Linked DNA regions of Homo sapiens: region 1 is linked to region 2. Evidence: fine-mapped QTL for protein levels in blood plasma. Region 2 holds a variant in brackets. A gene starts in the other region. All regions are shown on their reverse strands.

Region 1 (4,998 bases), not on the chromosome of region 2:
TCCCCACCCTAGGTCCTTTCTCGGCTTGGTCGTGGAGCACAGCACATACCAGAAAAAGCCAAGGGCAATGGAGGGGCAGGGAAACCGGGAGTATATGTACACGGGGAGGGGAGAACAGAGCCTTGGAGGTCGGCCTCTGCCAGAAGGGAGTGGCTCACACTGCATTGAAACACTTGGCCAGTGGGGGATGGGGGAAGGGATTGCCCCCTCCCTCTCGGAACTCCCTTCCCAGTCAGACAGGTCCCCTACAGGTGTGGTGTGGGGGGCAGGGGGCAGAGAGGAGAAAGAGGCTTCTGCTGGGTCCTAGTAGAGGCAGACAGCAGGGGCCTTGGCAAAGGCGATGTCCTTCAGTCATCTGTGATACCCTTCGCTCTCAGCTCCTCTTGCACCCGGGTCAGGTAGGTGGGGTCTGGGTACCCAAACCTGGGAGCAAAGAGAAATGAGGGTGAGGGTTGTTAGCTGTTTGAACTTGCTATTATCCCCATGCTCACCCTCATTCTAGGTGGCTCAGACACCTCCCCACCTCCCCTAAGGGAGGACACCTCCAAATCCAAGATAATTTAGCCCAGTTCTGCTTATTTTTGTAGGCTAAGCTGGGCACACCAGGACCAGGTTGAATGTAGGAGAAACTGAGATGGCTGAACAGTTTGGAAGTGGTTCTCTCCAGTTAGGAGGCTCCGTGAGCGAGGGGTTGGTGGGTCCCTCAGTGGAAATGGAACAAAGGGGAGGAGCCAAGGGAAAGGAAATGAAGAGGGGTCGCACAGCTGGGGTCCCCCTGTGCAGCTGGTCTTGTGGTGGATGTCGTTCCAGGTGATGACATTCGGTCTCCCTGTGGTCATGGACGTGCCGATAGTGAAGGTGAGACGCTGGTCAAACGCCTTGCGGAACAGGGTCAGCACCTTGTTGCCCTCAGGGCAGTCCGGGAGGTAGGCCACCCGTGTGGTGCCAGGATACCGAACTCCTGGGTTTGGGTGTTCAGCCTGGGAGGAAGGTGAAGCAGAGTGGGCAGTGAGCAGCCAGGCATCCTAAGGCCCAGATGCCAGAGGAGGGTCATCCAGGCTAGTCTCTGTCTGAGCACCCCCAGCTAATGCGAACGGGGCAGCAACAGGCTGACAGCTTTCCACAGAAGGAGAGATTATACGGCCTCGGCAGCAAGAGCCTGTTTCAGAGCATAATCCTTATGTGTTAAGAGATTTTTTCTGCTGTCTCAATCCCTCAAGTCTCCATTCAGCAACAAATGGATTCTCAGAAGTGATGGAAGTTAGCTGGTCCCTACACTCCAGACAACTCAGCAAAAATGTGAAGACAGAATAATCTATCTTTCAGCCTTCCCTTCACCTGAAAATACTCCTAATGTTTCTGCCACTGTCTAACTTGTTCCATTTTCCATCACTCTTCTGTGCAGCTTCTTCACCCCTCTGCAGCCAGAATTGCACATTACTCTTTGTCCAGCAGGAAGACACCTATAGGCCTTGACTACTCCTGTTTTTACAGAGTGATGCTCCTGGCTCTGTTGGGTTGGTCAGATCCCTTCCTATTGTGCCTCCCTTCCCCTAAGCCACCACCTCCACAGAATTTACCTCTGCCAAGATGTCAGCACAGTATTTGTGTTCATCAAGGAAATAATATGCAATTCCTTCCTCTCATATCTGATTTGCTTTTTTTTTTCCTAGCTCATATCTGATTTTCACGTGTGCCTTGGGATCACAGGGATGGAAAGGCTGGGCCTCACGGGGACCTCCTAGGTCCAGGGCACTGAGTAGGAGGGCACAGTGGAAGACAGCAAGACTGTCTCACATCTAACAAGCACACTCACCCTCACCCGGTTTTCCTAGGTCAGAGCTTGGGGAAAGCCAAAGGGTAAGGGCAGGCCATGGTCTTCTTACCCCCTGGACACCGGGCGGGAAGACGTACTGGATGACAATGGTGCCGTACTTCTCATAGCTGGGCAGTAGGAGGGTGGCGTCCTTAGAGACCAGCATCCGCCCATTCTGGGGCTGGTTGCCCACCAGCTGCCCATAGAAGCGGCCGCACATGGGGCAGGCCTTTTTCACCTGCAGAGCCCGGGTGATGCAGCCCTCGCAGAATGAATGCCGGCACTTCTCCAATGTCTTGGCATTCTGGATCTCCCCCAGACAGATGGGGCAGGTGCTCTCCTGCTCTTCTGCCTCCTCCCGAAGGCGAGGAGGAAGAGGTGGGGGCAGGGGGGGAGGAGGAGGGGGGAGCCCCCGAGCTCCTGGGGGCAGAAGTGGGGCTGCTCGGAGAGGGGGTGGGCCTGCGCGGTGCATCTCAGGGTGCTCCCCTCCACCCCCCAGAGCCAGGCAGCCCATCAGCTCCCCCTGCCTCTGAGCTTTCTTCAGCTCTTTCTCTGCCTCTTTTAGCAGCCCCTTGAGAGCCTTCCGGGCTAGGTAGAGCCCATTTGGAGGGGCCGGGGGAGGACCCTGTGGGGAAAGCTGGAGAACATAGATGTCAGAAGTCTCGCCATCTATGAGGATGGACACACGGTGCTCCTCCCGAAGCCGGGCCAGCCGGGCTGGGGTCTCTTTGCTCAGGAAGTCCCACACGGGCTTGGACACAGTCACTTTGTTCTTGCAGGTGCCTCCACAGGCTGCCATTCTGGACAGGACGAACGACACTGCCCCCAGGGTGAAAGGGACTCAGGGTGGGGGGTCCCCATTTGACAAGTATCAGTGCCTCCTACTTCAGGTTCCTTCCAAACCCTCTATTACCTCTGTTTTCTCAAAGCCTAATCCCCAACCCTTCACCCAAATTCATATTCTGTCTCCCCTTATCTTCCAAACCCAAAACCCACTGAAGAGCAAAAAAGTTTCCAGAGCTATATTATCATCTAAGCCAAGTATCAGTCTTGTTTCTCCTGTCATTTCTCCCAGATCATAGAAACAACTTGCCCCTCCCACCTCTTGGGGAAAAATGGGCTGTTTAAAGGGGAGGGAGACTCTTTGCCCCTCCTTTTTGCTTACTTTGATCCTGAAGAGCTTAGAATTGGCATGCAGGCTCACTCTTCTTTCCCTGCTCCCTACTTGTAGGTCGTGTGACCTGGTAGGGCGGAAAAATGGAAGGAAAGTGAGAAACCCCTTCTCCCAATTCCCATGGCCCCCAACCCAGCAGCCCATGGAACAGAGACAGAAACCTGGGTATAGGTTACTAAGAATGGCATTACTTGGAACATGGAATGAAGGAAACCAGTTTAAGGGTGAAAATTGAGGATCCCTTGCGGGGGAGATACCTGGAAAGCCCATGGAAGATGATGGCAGCAGAAATCCTTCTATTTCCACTCAGCTGACCAGGACTGGGAGTGGGGGAAGGGTAAAAAGTTATGATGGCAAATGTTACCATTCCCCTCAGCCAACCCAGAAATAAAAACTCCCCTTCCATCTCCTCTCTTCTCTGCAGAATTCCATTATCAGCTTCTCCCCAAGTTGCTCAAGAAGGAACTTCAACATGCTAACCTTCCTCCTTTCTTCCCCAGCTCTGAGGCCCCCAAGAAAGCCTAGGGCACACATAAGAGAAGTCAGGAAAGAAAACGCCCACACAGGTGGAGGTCTTCTTGCCACCTCCCTCAGATCACATGGACCGGAATATTTCCTATGCTCCCCAACTCCTCGCCTGCTCCACATTGCCAAATAATTCAGCCCCTATTGCCAGGGAGCCTTCCTTGAGAGCTAACTCAGTCCCTTCTGCTGAAGTCTGTTAAGGATGTGAACAAAGTGGCAGCAGCCCCTGCAATAACAAAGTTCTCATTGTCACCTTTTAAACCCAGCACAGGCAGTGCTGTCTGTCAGCTCCCAAGTCTGGCATTTAGGGAGGGGCGGGGCTCACACAAGGGCTCAGCTGGAGGGGCCTGATGTTTTCCCTGAGTCTGGTCGCATTGGGCTACGGGGCTGTCTCCACAACACTTCCAAATGCAGCTCAAACAGAAAGAAGGGCCATTAGTGTGACCTCCATTTATTGACTGATCCAAGAAGGAGCAGCTGTCCCTTCATGCCTCCATCATCGTCCCCCAAGGCCAGATGCACCTCGAGATTCATAAGTGAAAATGGAACCCTAGAGTCTCAGCCCATACAGTCTATCCGCGATGCAACACTTCTCTCCCCATCACGGGGGACCCAGGACCTAGGTGTCCTAGGTCCAAGTCCTGCTGGCACAGAAAAGGGAGGCGGGGCCCCAGTTTAGGGTGGGTCTGTGATTCCTCTGTGGCAACCCAGGCCGGACAAGGAACCAGTCTCTCCCTCCAGACAGAGGCCAGAGGGAGGCACAGCCCGGATGGGCAAGGGTCCCTGGGGGCATCCACTGAAGCAGCTCCCGCCCTCCCCCCACGGCCTCCTCCAAGACCCGACCCGGAACCAACTCCCCACATCCCTCAGTAGCCAAAGCCCCCGGATCCCCACCGCCGGGTGGGGGTGCATGTCGGCCCGATCGCAGCCCTCAGAACCCCCGAATGGAGGCCAAGGCTGGAGGGTGCTAGAAAGATGATCGGCCGGGCACGGAGCGGGGAGCCCGGAGCCGCGCGCGGGGAGGGGAGGTGGAGGAGGGGGCGCCGGGGGAGCGGGGGGCGCGTGAGGGGTGCGAGCGGGGCCCGGGGGGCGCGCGGTGGGTGTGGGGGGCGCCGGGCTCACCTACCTCTCGTCAGCGCCGCCATTGCCGGTCACATGACTGAGGCTGTTGCTGGGATGACGGTCCGGGCCTTAGCAACAAGGAGGGGGAGACCCCGAAAGGTGGGGGATTGCAGGGGGTGCAGGCTGAGGAAAAGGGAAGGAGGGAGGACAGCACCCCCTTTCCCCTCACAGGTGATAATCACCGTTCCTTTGACCCCCTTCTATCCGCAAGCCCCTGCCCTTCCTCCCCAAAACAAAAATGGAGGCGCTGTCCCAGTCTTTGGAGGGAGGGGGTGGCGTCATGGAACTGAGGGTAGGAGGTTAAATCCCTGGAGACGCCACCCTACTCGCTCCCCGCTCCCGGCGGAGCACTCTCCCTTTT
Region 2 (8,558 bases):
CAAAATTTTTTTAAAAAAATAGCAGTACAGTGACAATGCCTGGGTCATTTTAGATAAAAAGCAAACTTTTGTTAGGTGTGGTGGCTCACGCCTGTAATACCAGCACTTTGGGAGGCTGTGAGAGGATTGCTCGAGGCCAGGAGTTTGAGACCAGCCTGGGCAATGTAGTGAGACCCCTGTCTCTGCAAAAAATAAAAATATTAGCCAGGGGTGGCGGCAAGCGCCTGTAGTCTCAGCTACTCAGGAGGCTGAGGTAGGAGGCTCACGTGAGTCTGAGAGTTCAAGGACGGCAGTGAGCTATGATCACACCACTGTACTCTAGCCTGGGTGACAGAATGAGACCTTGTCTTAAAAAAAAAAAAAACAAAAAGCAAACTTTCTACCAAAAAACACAAATGCCTGCTGAGGAACTCGGAAGCACATGCCCACAGGGGTTTCACATCCATTCAGCTCCGCCTGCAGAGATGCCCAGTCTTTCCACAGTGTTCCCAGCCTTCCTCTAAGAGACTCTCAGGCAGGAACAGCGTCCACATGGCAGGAACCTGGCTCGGTTCTACGTGGTGTATGATGCACTATAAAAGCAAAGACAGGACTGGGGGCAGGAGAAAGACAACCCAGCTTCTAAACCAAGCATGATCCACCGGACCAAGGCTGGAGCAGCATCTAAAAGAGCCCGATGTGCTACCGGTTGCACTGCCTTGCTGTGAAAGAAATGTACTACAGGTGGGTCAAAGTGCCCCGTGTGTCTACTTTAATAATCGTGACCTTGGACCAGGCATCCCATCTGCTTCAGCAAGCGGTGACTGTGGGCCCAAATGCTCTCGCAAAATTTAAGTCATTCCACGGTAGTGCAGTGAGGTGGATGGTTGACCAGTTTTACTGAAAAATAAACTGAAATGCAGCCAGGCACGGTGGCTACACCTGTAATCCTAGCACTTTGGGAGGCTGAAGGGGGTGGATCACCTGAGGTCAGGAGTTCAAGACCAGCCTGGCCACCATGGTGAAACCCCGTCTCTACTAAAAATACAAAAATTGGCCTGGCATCCTGGTGCGTGCCTGTAGTCCCAGCTACTGGGGAGGCTGAAGCAGGAGAATCACTTGAACCCAGGAGGTAGAGGTTGCAGTGAGTCGAGATCATGCCACTGCACTTCATCCTGGGTGAAAGAGCGAGACAAAAAACAAACAAACAAACCAAAAATCAAAAAAAAAAAAAACAAAACCCTGAAATGCAGAGAGGAGCTGTAACGTGTCCAAGGTCACACAGCCTGGGAATTGGGTCCTGGTCTCCTCTGTGCTCCCGCGTTGTCTTCTAGTACAGTCTGCAGGGTTCACCTTTTCCCTGACTCAGTCTTCTCCTAAGAGTGACAAAGAACTTTGTGAAAAGCCTCCTGCAGTCTCAGGATCATGGATTTTCTGCCCAGAACCAAACCCTGTATGGGCTCTGCCAGGTCACAGGGAGGCAGCGGGTCCCACAAGGACTTTCCAGAAACCTTGCCCAGAGCTTAGACCAGTGGGATCTAGAGCCTGGGCAACTTCAGCAGGGCCCCAGGGGTGGCCAGGACTCATCCTTCATGACCACCAGCCCCTGCCCGGGCTTCACGACGCTCCCTGAGCTCCAGCAGTCTAAGCCTCTCGCTTTTTTGGTGACCTGAGCACCCCGGGACATGGGCCAGACGTACCTCCTCTGGAACCTGCAAAATAAAGGAGATGCAATTCAGATGCCGGAAAAGCAGTGTAAGAAAATGCATCACTGTGCTCTTCTCTTCCGCTGCCCCCGTTTTCTCTGTAGCATTAGCAATATCAACTAATTCAACCGAGTAACTGTTTTCCAAGGAACTCAAAGCCTCTCCAACACTGAAGAAAATCCTCTTATGTTGATAAGCCCTCACCTCCCTTCCTAACTTAGAGTATAAATCTCAGGCATGGAGATGTGAAGAGACTTGTCTAAGGTGGCAAAGCCCATATCGGCCTCCCACGCAGGGAAAGAGGGCCAGGCGGGCCCTGTTGGAGGAGGCAGCAGGCGAGGTGAAATACACCTGGGGCTAGGAGCCAGCAGTGCCGGCCTCTGTCAGCCAGGTCCAGTGGTCCGGTCTGCATTTCCTTGAGCAAGTCCCCTCTCCTCTCTGGCCTCAGTTTTCTTGTCTCAAAAATAGGACCCAGTGATCCCCAAGGTCCGTCCCAACTCTGAAAGCCCGTGGCTGCATTTCCAAGCCCATAAGCCGGTGGGAGGGAAGCTGTGTATCACAATTCCATTTGCATTGTCCTTGGATCGATTCTGTCCCAGATCCGAAGTCCTCAGCTCCTGTTTCAGAGACGGAGGGGTTTAGGCCTATGTGCATTTTTACAACTGATGGTATTTGCCCAGCTGCCTTTCTCAGGTGGGTGAGCAGGTAGAAGTCAGTGTTCCATGGGTGGCAACGTTGCCAGTGGTGAGCACAGAGCCTCCTCTCCTGACACCTCGTCTGGATTCTCCCAGGGGTGTGCTGGGAAACTGGCTCTTGGGAGAGGGTGGAAGCTCTGATTTGTACTATTTGCCACTTTCCATGGTGTAAACAGGTCCCTGCCAGGGCCATTTTTCAGGCTGCTGAAGGACCTCAGCAGACATGGGTCAGAGAAAAGAGATGGGCTTTGGGAGCCGGGAGGAGCCAGCTCCAGCCCATCAAACCGAAATGCATCCCCAGTCAGTGCCCTAAAGCCTTCCTTTCATCCCTCTCCTCGCATGGCTACCTGCAGCCCACGAAAGCTCTTTCTTGTTTTGCAGAAGGGAGTGGGGAGAGCCCAGGGGCCCAGCGTGTTGGGTGAGTTCTCAGTGCCCCAGCCCCAGCCTGAGGGCGGAGAGGAGACTGCAATGCGGCTGCCCTCTGGCTGTGGCTCAGAGTGAAAGGAAAACACGCATACAGCAGGAGTCTGTGTAGGGATCTGGGCTCCAGCCATCAGAGCCCTGGGGGGAGCATCATGACCAATGTTCCCCTGTCCCCAAGCTCTCCACCATCCAGGCCAATGACTTTGCCGAGCTCTGAGCAGCTGCACCCATGGACTCAGTCCTGCCCTCACAGTATTGCCTGATGTGGCCCAGTATATTCTGTTCTTTGAAGATGGGTAGGCTGACCAGAATGCCAGGCCTGGAGGATGTGAGAAGGGATGTGGAGGCCATTTGAGAGTGGAACTCCCTGCAGGCTGGCTGTGGGGGGCCCGTGAAGGGCTTAGAAGGCCCCACAACCCAGAGCCACTGCAGGGGCCTCCCTACGGGGGCTACTCCTGAGCCTGGCCAGGCTGGTAGTTTTGTTTTTCCTTGGCCAAGCTCCCGGTCTGGGATCCCATCCCCAGTTCTGCCTCTGGGGTCAGCTTTCCATGCAGGGGCTGAGATGAACACATGGGGAAGGGAGGGCAGGAGCCCCTGCGCTCTGCACCTCATAGATGCCAAAGCCGATGGTGTGCATGTCCTCGCCCATCTTCCTCTGCCGCCGTCGGTGCTTCTGAATGAGCCCCACCAGGAAGGTGCAGCCGCTCTCCCCATCCTCCTCGTCCTCATCCTCCTCCTCCAGCTTGATCAGGTACTGAGGGTTCATCCAGAATGTGTCTGCAGCCAGAAAGGGGCAGAGGAGCCCAGCCCTGAGCAGGAATGCATGGGGGTGGGGGGTGGCCCTGGTCTCAGGCTTGGAGGCTTCTGAGAGGGATGGAGATAAAGGGAGATGGTGGGAGGTGGTGGGAGATGGTAAGAGGTGGTGGGGGATGGTGGGAGATGGCAGAGTATGGCAGAAGATGGTGGGAGACAGCGGGAGATGTCAGAAAATGGCGGGAGATGGTGGGAGTTGGCAAGAGGCGGTGGGAGGCTGTGGGAGACAGTGGGAGATGGTGGGAGATGGCAGAGGATGGCAGAAGATGGTCAGAGACGGCAGGCGATGTTGGGAGAGGCTAGGAGGTGGGAGACACCAGGGTTGGAGTGTGGACTGCAGGCTTTGTTAGGCTGGAGACGGGTGACGGTAGCTGTGGAGAGAGGATGACCTGCACTTGTCTGAATCTAACAGGAACCTAAATTAGAAACTTTCTCTTGCAGTTCTCTCTCTGGCTCCAGGCTGGCTTGTCTTGGGGACTGGTCTGTCACTCTGGAACGCAGGGTGGTTAGAGCTGTGGCTTCCCCTCATGGTACCTTCTCTTCACTGGGCTCTGATGGGGAGCCTGGGGCGGGGCTCGGCTGGCCTGGGGGACTCCGGGATCTGCTCCCTGCACTTGCCGGTCGCCGCCCCCTCGGTGAGCCCGGAGGCCAAGAACATCCTGTGTATAATTCCAGACTCTTTCTTGTTCTGCGTCCCTTGTCCTCTCAGGCCTATTCCCTTGCCCTGCTCCTGATGTCTCTGCCCTCTTTACTTCCAAAACCTATTTATTTAAAAAATCTAAGATTCATTCATGTTTAAGGGGAATTATGCTAATTGCCTTTCCATACCTAATGGGATAAAACCCTAACTGTGAAATTACAGGCACCATCTTGTGTAGGGGTTGGCAGCTATGGCTCCGAAGGCCGCTGCCTGTTTTTGTAAATAACGTTTTATTGGAACGTAGCCACGGCCATTCGCTTAAGTATGGCTGCCTTTGGGTTATAGCAATAGAGTTGTTGTTATAGAGACTGAGTGGCCCACAAAGCCAAAATTATTTACTATCTGACCCTTTAGAGGGAGTTTTCCGACTCCTGATCTAGTGGGTAGGAGGGGTCCCTTGTGGGGGGCAGAGGGCCTTCCCAGCGCCTCTGGGACTGCCACTTGGTGGCTGCATACTTGAGGTGAAGGAGTCCGAGCCCCAGAACTGTAGGCCAGCTAGCCGCAGTCTGACTACTTGCTCTGTGGCCCTGGTATGCGACTTAGAGGCTCAGCTTCCTCATCTGTCACAGAGAATCACTATGTGACCATGATCTGCTGCCACTGTACTTACACAGTGACTCCTCAGTCAGGGGGCCTGGGTTCAAATCCCAGCACGCTCTGTGGCCTTCAGCAAGTCACTAGCCTCTCCAAGCCTCAGTTTCCTCATCTTAGAGATGGAGGTGATAAGAAAGTGCCTGCCTCAGAAGTTTGTTGGGAAGGTTAGATAGAATGTTATGCAGGCTGAATATCCCTTATCTGAAATTCCTGGGGCCAGAAGTGTTTCCTATTTTGGATTTTTTTGGATTTTGGAATATTTGTATATACATAACATATCTTAGGGATGGAACTCAAGTCTAATGACAAAACTCATTTCTGTTTCATATATAATTTATACACATAGGCTGAAGGTAATTCTATAGCATATTTAAAATAATTTTGTGCATGAAACAAAGTTTTGACTGTGTTTTGACTGCGACCTGTCACCTGAGGTCAAGTGTCGAATTTTCCACCTGTGGTATCATGTTGGGGCTGAAAAAGTTTTGGATTTTGGAGCATTTCAGATTTCACATTTTCAGATTATGGATCCTCACCCTGTGTACAAAACACTTAGGATAGTTCCAAGCACTGAAGGTGTGCCCCATAATTGGCAGATGTCATCATGTTCAGACAACTGCTGACGGACTAAGCCATGAAGGCAGAAGAATCAAGGGGCTCAACAAAGGCTGGACCAGAGGAGAAATCTTCACCCCATCTGGGCAGCGCCCAGTCAACATTTGCTGATTGAAGTGAGTATGGGGCAACAAACAGGGCCTGATATGTGGAGGGCTCCCTGGGTGCCGGGACAAGGTTCCCTTGTAGGCTCGGCTGCCTGGGTGTGGGGTGCATAGAGCAGCTCATGGCCGTGAAGTGGGATTGAGCACTGCTTCCGTGAGCATGGCGGAAGGTCAGGCTGAAGGTCATGATGGGCGCTGGGGAATCTAGGGCCTGGAGAGGACATCACAGAAACAGTGGCTCTTGGGTTTGTCCTGGGTAGGGCAGGAGGTAAGGGATTGAGAAAGAGAGCTCGGGGAGAAAAGGCTCAGGGAAAAGAAAAGGCTCAGGGAGAAAGAAGACAGAGAGGGTTCCAGTGAGCAGGAGCTGCCTCCTGGGGCTGCTAGGCTGGGGTGTGGTACACAGGGTGGGGTAAGGGGAGCTTTGGCCTTTGGTGGCCCCGCATTGCAACAGCCCTTATATGCAACAGCCCTTACTCGGGTAGTTCCTGCAACCTCCC[G/A]CGGTGGAGCCCCGCCTCCAGTTCCCATCCATTTTGGTGAGTTTCCACTTCTTGTAGGTATCGCTGGTGAGAGTGTCTGGGGTCAGGTTACAGATCTCCAGGCGGGAATAGTGCCTCAGGAAGTCACTGAAAGACATCCTGGCAAAAGCAGAGACAATCATCACAGGTGATAAGAAGACACACTGGTAAGCCTTGACTTTCCACCAACACCAGACCAGGAGCCACCCAAAGCCAGGCAGAGCAGCTCATTAGAACTGAGTGGATGGGCACCAGGTTCAGAATCAGAAGGCCCAGATTCCAGTCCTGGCGCTGCAACTTTCTAGCTGGGTGACTTTGAGCAGGTTACTTAAACTTCTCTGAAGCTCAGAACTCTCACCTGCAAAAATGGGAGCCGTGCCCATCAAATGTGACAATATATGGGCCCCATTTGATAAAGAGCATGTTGTGTCCAGGTGCAGGTGGTTATAGAGTGGCGCAGACACACAGACATGTGGGTCCATTGCTGCTCACTAAGGGACCAGTTTCTTAAGGGGCTGGGATGAGTCTCCGGAACCTGGGGGAGAAAGGCCCCATCTTTCCCTTGTTTCCTGGGATCTGAACATTACCAAAGGAATTCCTCTTAGCCTTTTTCTGAAGCTGCTCAGCTTATAAACCCCATTGTCAAGATGGACCGTTGAAGGGGCTTAAGAATTTCTTTATTCAGGCTCTTATAGTGAACTTAAAATAACAAAACCAGGATCCCACACGCTTGTGTCCTCGACATGGTAAACTCACTTTGGCCGACACTCTTTCTAATTAGCAGTTTTCTAGTAAAGAACATTGGGGCAGACAGAGCTTTCCCTGAAGCCTCCACTAATCTTACCAGAATTCTCCATCTTCATGCCGTCTGGTCAGCCTTTCCCTCTCCTCTGGGTCTATAGTGTTCCAGCTTGGGCAGCTGGAAAACAAAGTAAAGAGAGAGGCGTTAGTGTACGATGATTTCTCCCCAAAGGCCCCAGAGTTGAGGAAGAGGGACATCTGCTCTCACCTCTGAGGGCTCAGGCTCCAGAAAGGGGGAAAGTAGCCCACATCTGGCTAACAGCTGCATTTTAATACTCTTACAGCACTTTAAAGAGTATAGAACACTATACAGATGCAAACCAGGGAGCAAAGTGAGCGGGTGAGTTGTGCTGGAAGACAGTGGCAAGGAAGAGTCCAGAAAATGAACATAGTTCATTAGAGGGAGATGGAGTAGCTCAGAGCAGTTGCCCAATTGAGATGGGCCTGGCAGCTCTTTTAGAGACAACTGAAGATCTGATGAGGAGCCTCCGGCTGAGGCCTGGGAAGCCTCAGCAGGTGTCTCTCTGTCCACGGAGCAGAAGGACCTGGCCCTGTACACAGGGGCAGTGCACAGGGTAAACTAACCACTGCCTGAGCTTTGGCTGGAATTACACACAGGCCTCTGTACTGCCCACCTCTCCAACCTGAGGCAGAGCAAGTAGGCTGAGGTTGCCACAGCAGATGTACAAACAAGTGTTTACCCCAAATAGTTGAGGGTTCAACATGCCTACCAGTAAGCCCTGGAAATCAACAGAGGGATGTTTCTCTGGCCTTTGGTACAAAGTTCACATCCCTGTAATAGAAGTGCCTGGGGGAAGGTGGGGTGTATTTTTTTCCCTGAAAGCCCCATAGAAGGGTGGATTTGAGCTAGGGAAGGGGTGAACCTGGAGGCAGTGGCAGGAATGAACTTCACACGAGCAGCTTGGGGCCTGGAAGAAGGCACTCAGGCTGCTGGAGGAGTGTCCTGGTTAAAAGACCCTTTGAGGGGCCCCTGTCCACGGGTCCCTGTCCACGTGGCCTGGGCTCTCCTGGCTATATTTCTCAGAATAATGCACATGTCTTCTTCTCTCGCCCTCTTCCCAGAGCCTCCCAGCACAATGCACCCCCGCCTGGGGCCCCGAGGCCTGCGCCCTCCTCACTTGTCATTCCACCGCCCTGTCCACTCCACTTCTCCCCAGGGATTTCGGATGCGGATCAGTTTCTGTAGGCTTCCGTTACTTTCAACCTGCAGGATTAGATAAAAGGGAGGAGTAAGAGGTTGAGTTCAAGTCAGGGCTATGAAGGCTTGGGCCTCCAACCCCCTTCCGCATGAGCCAGGAGGTATGGGGCTGAGGACGGTGGGGAGGATTTGGGGGTTGAGTCCATGTATGAGGGAGGATCACAAGAGCTAGAGGGGGCTTGGCACCCAGACCTCTCACTGCTGCCTAGCTTTGGAAAATGAGATTTAAAGCTCCCAGGATCCGGCTCTCGAGGATGGGGCTGTTGGTGCTTCATCTCTGAACTTCAGCTTAACTGACAGGATGCGCTTTTGGTAAAGGAGCTCAGAGAAGCTTTACCATTTGTTGAAAGATCACTGGTGATAACAGGCACATGCAGTGAGTGAATCTGGATTG

Alleles and levels. Alleles are on the strand shown, and positions count from the first base shown. The strength of an association depends on the size of the effect and on how common the allele is.
With allele G in place of A in region 2, the plasma level of the protein whose gene starts at base 4,676 in region 1 is higher (moderate association).

What was found. PIP is the posterior inclusion probability: the model's chance that the variant is causal. Protein levels are from antibody-based Olink assays in UK Biobank. Linkage for the fine-mapping came from a reference panel and not from the study's own genotypes, which makes the PIPs less certain.
Region 1: it holds the start of DTX3, and the variant in region 2 is fine-mapped to the plasma level of the DTX3 protein (UK Biobank, PIP above 0.99).

What each region holds. Positions count from the first base shown.
Region 1 is chr12:57,604,502-57,609,499 of GRCh38, reverse strand. It overlaps DTX3 (deltex E3 ubiquitin ligase 3), which reads right to left and starts at 4,676. Exons shown (of 7, transcript NM_178502.4): 1 at 4,642-4,676; 2 at 3,769-3,929; 3 at 3,248-3,310; 4 at 2,982-3,057; 5 at 1,887-2,635; 6 at 763-980; 7 at 1-423. The coding sequence starts at 2,982. The coding sequence ends at 348. RefSeq lists enhancers at 4,282-4,794, 4,795-4,998.
Region 2 is chr1:223,750,502-223,759,059 of GRCh38, reverse strand. It overlaps CAPN2 (calpain 2), which reads right to left. Exons shown (of 21, transcript NM_001748.5): 7 at 8,085-8,170; 8 at 6,989-7,063; 9 at 6,104-6,264; 10 at 3,411-3,580; 11 at 1,680-1,691. Among named protein-coding and RNA genes, the nearest start is that of CAPN2, 42 kb to the right of the region's middle. RefSeq lists an enhancer at 5,616-6,815 and a silencer at 7,519-7,813. The variant G/A (reference allele first, on the strand shown) is at 6,127.